Linked DNA regions of Homo sapiens. The protein of the gene in region 1 purifies or fractionates together with the protein of each later gene. This does not show direct contact. Each region holds a gene or a part of one and is shown on either strand. Other genes may lie near its edges.

Region 1 (4,245 bases):
TTAAACGGTATTTATACGACACTGTCCAAGAAGAAACACGAATATTCTGGGCCACTAGAGACGTCTGCAGTATGTCAGGGGAGCGATGTTCTGTACCTGGATAACACTTCCTTCTAGACATTCTACTCACTATGCCAAAGGAAAAGTTAAGCCTGGGAACCGAGACACTCCAAAACTGCCTTCCTTTTGTTCCCAAACATAGCTGTAATTTCACACGGTTGCTTTATCTTATGTAAAATGTAGATTTACTGAGCACGAGATAAATGCATCATTGACTTTCCCTCCATTCCCTTGTTTTCATGTGCTAAATGTAGATTCACTGAGCACCAATAATAAGAGCTCACAAGAATGTAACCATTTGCCTCACTGTCTACCCTCTTTTTATCCCCCGCTCCTGCTTGCTCTTTCCCCTTTAAATACCGAAGTTCCTCAAACCCTCTTTGGGAAAAGCACAGGACAGGTCCTCCTGTGACTGGTGTTTCTTTTTCCCGGGCACATCCTTAGCCTTGGCAAAATAACTCTCTCATGGACTGAGTGCTGCTTCAGGCACATTTTCGTTTACACTTTTAACCTTTTCTGACTTCATCCTCAAGGACATTTCTTTCATGCACATGTGAAAAATCAAACTCTACCAAGCAGCTGTTCATTCCCTTGAATGCTGACACTTAAATAACATCACAACTAAGAGAGTTGCTTTCTCAGGACAGCAGTTCAGAACCATAAGACTTCGGAGGTAAAGAAAGCAGGGAGAGCATAACGCTAAGTTTCTTGGAAATTTTTTTATTCTCCTTGCCAACATTTCTTTTGACATTTTATTACTTAATTATGTGACATTAAGAAATAATTTGGTTGCATATTATTTTCAAAAAGCAGTAAGAAAGTAGCTATTGAGAAAGAAGGAGGGCCATAGGTTTTTCAATAAAACGTTAGAAACATTATAAAAAACGAGACTCCCATTACATGGAAACACATGATCAAAGATCAGACTAACACACATTCAAACAGGCTTGGTTCGAAATAGAGTTCTCCATTTCTTTCAGATGAGCCTTTTTTCTTAGGCTCTTTCAGAAGCACTTCACAATGAACAGAGGTCTTGCCAGCTCATTTCATTAGCGGAGAAGCAAAGGTATGATGGCAGAATCATGAGAAGATGGAAATAAGGCCTGAGGATATGGCTTGATCTCTGAGACCAATTATCTTTGAGTTATTCAGGCCAGGATAGAAGCTTAGAGAGGATCGAGGCAAACCATGAAGGGAAGGGAATGCAGGACAATGCCCATTACTGGCTTTACCACAAACTCCAAATCTCCTGGACCCACTTCGCAAGGTTGTAAAGTTAAATGAGGAAGGAGCCTGCATTGTTTGTAACATAATACAATACTTTCACTTTGTCTTATTTTTTAAGGTGCAGCTCTTCAAGAATTTCATTTTTTAAAAAATCATCTGTAAGGGAAGAAAAAAACGCATTTAATTCAAAGACTGATTTTTTTTTTTTTTTTAATGGAGTCTCACTCTGTTTCCCAGGCTGGAGTGCAGTGGTGTGATCTCAGCTCACTACAAACTCCACCTCCCGAGTTCAAGTGATTCTCCTACCTCAGCTCCTGAGTAGTCGGGATTTTGGGTACCCACCACCACACCTGGCTAACAGTTTTTTTGTAGTTTTAGTAGAGATGGGGTTTCACCATGTTGGCCAGGCTGGTCTTGAACTCCTGACCTCAAGTGATCTGCCTGCCTCTGCCTCTCAAAGTGCTGAAATTACAGTCATGAGCCATCACGCCCCGCCGAAGATTGGTTTTCATACAAACAATTCCAAATAAAATATCTAATGATGACAATCTGACACAAATGACAATGCCAGATGCTTGTCAGAAAATATTATATATGTATACATTTTAAGGATGTTACCACCCTCTGTAAGAAATACCAGCACACACCCACCTCACCCCCTCTCCACAAAACAGTAACAACAAACCTTTCACAGCACGGGCGAACTCGCTCTTCTGCTGACTTACTTTCTACTCGGGTTTCTGATCCTAGTCATGTACTTGTCTGGGCTACCGGCGCTCATTACCGTAGTATAAATTGTGAAGCTGAAAATTATGAGGAAATTTTATGTACACATCATTTTCTCTAATATGCCAGAAAGGGAAGAAAATGACCAAGTGCTTCCCTAACACTTGAGATCTGGGACAAGGCCCTTTATGCCAGAATATTTTAAATCTATGAATCAAGAGGTCAAAGTGCACTTTCCTCCTATTTTGACAACACTGTGGAAGGCCAAGTTGGAACTTAAAATTCTCAGACTTAATTAGCTGGGTGTGGTGGTGCCTGAAATCCCAGCTACTAGGGAGGCTGAGGCAGGAGAATTGCTTAAACTTGGGAGGCAGAGGTTGCACTGAGCTGAGATTGCGCCACTGCACTCCAGCCTGGGCAACAGAGTGAGACTCTGTCTCATAAAAAATAAATAAATAAAATCTCAAGACTCCTCAGAGCTCTACCCCAAGGCAGTGGGGGAGACCAAGCCTTGGCCCTCACCCTGGCTCTGTCCTACCCACAAGGGCCTTACTTGCACACATGTGACATCACCGCCTTCACATTCCCCAGCAAGCACCTGCCCCTGTGCTCTCTCTCAGTGGCCATGCACCACCATCAGGAGAATATCACCCAGGGAAGAGGAAAACACAAACCCTGGAAGTGGAGGTGGGGCTGTTCAGGCTGAGAATTACAGGGTCCTGGGTACTTGGGCAGACTCCAGGTGGGCAAATGCCCTTGGTCCAGCAGATTCCTTACACCATGCTTTGGGGGGGTGGTATCACAACTAGAGGAATTCCAGAGGAGGGCCTCTAAAGCTCCAGGATCAAGGCACCTGCCCCGCCCCTCCACCTTGCCCAGATCTAAGGATGAAAAGTATAGTGTCATTGATTACACATTCCGTATAACAAGAGACCTAAACAACTTGAGCACATGTGCCCACATGTACACACATTTGTCTTGGAATCCAGTTGAGGTGCATGTGCAAAATATCGGAGCTGGGTTGTTCAGAAACAGGCAGAATTAGTAGCACTGGGTCCACAGCTAAATCATACACCCAGTTAAAGACAGCACTGTAAGCAAGTGCAGAGCTCGTCCAAGGGTAATGGAGGTTCCCTGAACAGGACCTTAATTGCTCGTTTACTTTAGTCATAGTTCTGCTCTCCATTACTGTTTTAGTATTTTCTCTACTGATGAGCCACAGCAGAGGATGGAGATGTATTGCAGGTGGGTGTAATTTTGCAGCATGGCACAAAGGGGCAGCATAGAGCTAACTGCCTTTGTTCAGACTACTTTTTTGTTGTTTCTTTTTCTTTTTTTCAGATACAGCTACACTTATTTCTATTAACCTAATACAACTGAACAGCCTCAGTTGAGGTTAATCATTACATGTAAAGGGCCTGAGAGTCAGAAGTCTGTGTTAATTCTGGCTCCATGGTGATTGTCACTTAAAAGCAGTTTCTCTTGAATTTTCAAGTATACAACAGAGAAAAACACTACTTGGTAAACTGTTTATAATTTCTAACAATTTTATTTTGACCAAACCATTTCAGAAACCATTTAAACATTCATAACTGTTAACTCAGTAATCCTACTTCTGGGAATTCAGCCAAGGGAAATAATCTGAAAGTAAGCAGGGGAGAGGCAAACGAATATGTTTATTTCAGAGTTTTAATAGAGGAAAATCTAACAACTGGAGAATGCTTAACTCAATTATAATACAGCCAACTGGCCACTGCCACCATGTAAAATTATGAGGGCTGTTCAAAGCAGAGAAAATGCTTTGTTTTATTAAAATAAATGTAACTATTTTATTATAATACTAATTTTTAAAAGATATATTCATCACTTCTTTTTTTTTTTTTTTTTTTTTTTTTTTAAGACGGAGTCTCCCTCTGTCGCCCAGGCTGGAGTGCAATCTCAGCTCACTGCAACCTCTGTCTCCCGGATTCGAGTGATTTTCCTGCCTCCACCTCCCAAGTAGCTGGGATTACAGGCACGCACCATGACGCCTGGCTAATTTTTGTATTTTTAGTAGAGATGAGGTTTCACCATGTTGGCCAGGCTGGTCTCGAACTCCTGACCTCAAGTGATCCACCCGCCTCGGCTTCCAAAGTACTAGGATTACAGATGTGAGCCACTGCGCCCAGCCAGATATATTCATCACTTCTATAATTACCTAAAAAAACTATAAGAACACAAAAGTAGTTTATT
Region 2 (2,921 bases), on another chromosome or scaffold:
TAGGAAGGAAAAGTCAGGAGTTGTTGAAAGAACGTGGGCTTTGAAGTCCTGGCTCAGCCACAGGGCCCTGGGCAAGTCACTTAGCAGCACTGGTTGCCCCTACCTTACTGGATACTGAAGGAGCTACAACACTGCAGCTCTTAAGTATTGGACACACAGTAGGTCAACAGCATCGATGACTAGTGAGCCAGTCCCTTGGCTGTGTGCTGGCTGGGGGTGTTCCCATACCTGGACCTGAAGATCACCAAGTTACCTTGCAAGGTCTACATTTCAAGAGACACCACAGGCTGTTCTCCAAAGGACTCCCAGCTGAACTCAGAGCAACAAGAGAGGGGTGTGGGCAGGGTGCGAGGGGCAGTGCAAAAGGGAGCTCCTGGTCTTCACTGGGGACCTGGGGTGTGGGAAGAATTCCTAGCCACAAGTGGGAAGGCATCCAGGCAATCAGAAGAGCAAGGGCAGTGGGGTTGTGGTGAAAAACAGTGGGAAGAGCTTTCAAGGACAAGGTCCCCATGGAACAGAGGAGCAGTCTGATGAAGCCGGCGCATGCCTGAGACCACTATCATCAAGCTCTGGGGCTCATGTGCCTCTGAGGTCAGGAGACGGTTTCCCAGGCCTGGATTTGGCCCATTCTGATTAGGGTTAGGCCCTCTATACTGATCTGGCCACAGACCCACTAGCAGCCAGGGTGGGGCCCCTCCTTCAGAATCAAGCAAAAGCTGTGGCCCTCAGGGGGCTGCACCGAGCACCTAGGACATTGATCACTGCATCCAAAGGTCCAAAGTTTTATTGTTTTGAATACATTCTCCAGCGGCCCCTCTACTCCCCCCACCCTCAGTCCCCAATACAGAATAAGGCTTGACCACAGCCCCCCACCCCACCCCAGAGGCCCCAGCTGGGAGGCAGAGGGGGCTTCCAGTTTGGTTTCAGGGCACCCCCTTCCCATCCCCCCACCCGCCTGCCCATGGGCCAGTCCTAGGAGCAGCTGGGGATGAAGGGGTTGGACCGGTGCTGGGGTGGGGAGTGGGAGAGGGATAGCAGGCACTTGTAGAGATTTGTGGCCCATGGGCGGCACCCCTCACCCTCCTCCGCCCCCCACCCCCCAACACATGGAATTTTTGGTTCATTATAAAATTGTCCCTCCCTCCCCTGCTGTGACCTTGTGGGGTATGAGAAACCTAGGCACTCATGGCCCCCTGGAGGGGCAGGGCAGGCAGGGCTGGGGCTGAGGAGGGCTGGGAGTGGGGCAGAGCGGGTGGGTCAGAGGGGTACAAGAGGCAGAGAACAGGGAGGGAGACAAGGCTTTACTTCCTAAGCGATTGTAATAGAAAAGTTCCTGGGTGTTAAGGCCAAAGCCTCAATTCAAATATAAATTCCCCAGAATGGAGGTGACCCCCTTAACTTCCCCCTCCCTCCCCCTACCACCACTTTGCCCAGAGCTTAGAAACCCACAGAGACAGGGAATAGCCCCTAGCCCTGGGCACCCACCCACCCCCACCATTTTTAAAAAAAAGAAATTAAAGTTTTATACAAAATGTGGGGAGGGAAAAGGGAGGAGGCAGGGAAGAGACAAGAGAGCTGCCCTCACCTCCAGGGCATAGGGGGCTTAAGGCAGCAAAAGAAGCATGGGGGGTGCGGGGCACACAGGTCCCCTGCCCACAGCCCTCAGGAGTCTCGGTGCTCCAGGGAGAGCTGGGCCGTGGCATGCTGGAGGTCAGAGCTCACCCGCCTTGGGGTGAGGGGCCCCCCAGCCTCCCCAGGCCCCTCCCCACGCACCTTCTTGTCCTCACCCTCATCCTCAAAGCCCCCAGCGGGGCCCCCACCCCCTTCGAGGCGACAGTCTTCACTCCAGCGCCGCTTAAAGCGTAGCTTGAGGGGCATGCACTGGGATGCCCCGGGTGCCTCGCCGGGCTCAGGCTTAGGGGGTGCAGGTGGGGCACGGGGCGTCTTGAACACCTCCCCGTCTTCCTCATCCTCATCACTGATGTCAGTCACCTCTACCTCCTCCGACTCGCCTTCCGAGATGGGCTCCACCTTGATCTGTGGTGGCGGGGGCGGTGGGGCTAGCGCCCCTGCCCCCTCAGCCAGCCCGCCTGCACTGCCACCGCTCTTGTCAGCACCGGCTACGGCCTTCTCCCCAGCTGCCCGCTGCCGGCGTCCGAGTGGGGGCGGCTGGAGCTTAAACTTGAATGGGGAGGAAGAAGAAGAAGAGGATGACGAGGCCGAGGAGGGGACCGGTGGGGTCTCGGGTGCCATGGGCGGCAGCGGGCACTTGTCAGGGCGCTGGGGCTGGGGCACCACCAGCCCAGGGTAGTGCAGGAAGGCGCGGGGGCTGAGGTGGTAGTTGTAGACGCTTTGGGTGTGGGCCTGCAGGTACCGTTTCATGTCCTCAGGGCTGAAGGAGAAGTGGGAGCCTCCCCCTGAGCCGCTGGGCCCCCCGCCACCACTGGGGTACATCGGGCTCAGCGTGGGCGAGGGAGTGTAGGCCAGGTGGGTGGGCGTCATGGGCAGAGCCGGGGAGAGCTGAGGGGGCAGCAGGGATCCAGGACCGGCCAGAGGCGACACAGGGAAGGGGCTGAGGGGTTCAGGGCCACCCCGAGGCCGGGGATAGACTCGGAAGACACCAGGGTCATGGGGCAGGCGGGCCAGCGGGGGCCCTCGGAAGGCACCCAGATCCGGAGGGCCGGGTGGTCGGGCGCGGGGATCCTCTCCCAGCGGTTCCTCCAGCTCTGACGTGCCATCACTACAGTCACTGACTGAGCCTCGGCCCAGGCGGCGGGCCACCACAGCCGAGAAGAGGGAAGATGAAGATGAAGAGCAGGCTGGTGGTGAGCGGGGGTCCTCGGTGGGGGACAGCACCTCGGAGGGCGTTGAGGGAGGGAAGCGGAAGTGGCTACCACCCGACGGCACTGGCGGGGCACTCT

What was found.
Region 2: the proteins of NAAA (region 1) and ERF purify together in Homo sapiens (affinity purification with mass spectrometry; 3 studies listed by BioGRID and IntAct, with this or other methods). This does not show direct contact.

What each region holds. Positions count from the first base shown.
Region 1 is NC_000004.12:75,912,896-75,917,140, forward strand, and holds the end of NAAA (N-acylethanolamine-hydrolyzing acid amidase isoform 1 precursor), read right to left. Parts: exon of another isoform or gene 4,220-4,245; coding exon of another isoform or gene 4,207-4,219; exon of another isoform or gene 3,655-4,206; coding exon of another isoform or gene 3,609-3,654; exon of another isoform or gene 3,543-3,608; intron 2,091-3,542; coding exon 2,009-2,090; 3' UTR 1,973-2,008; intron 1,444-1,972; coding exon of another isoform or gene 1,432-1,443; 3' UTR 765-1,431; downstream 1-764.
Region 2 is NC_000019.10:42,246,803-42,249,723, forward strand, and holds the end of ERF (ETS domain-containing transcription factor ERF), read right to left. Parts: coding exon 1,663-2,921; 3' UTR 767-1,662; downstream 1-766. UniProt on the Homo sapiens protein: Potent transcriptional repressor that binds to the H1 element of the Ets2 promoter. May regulate other genes involved in cellular proliferation.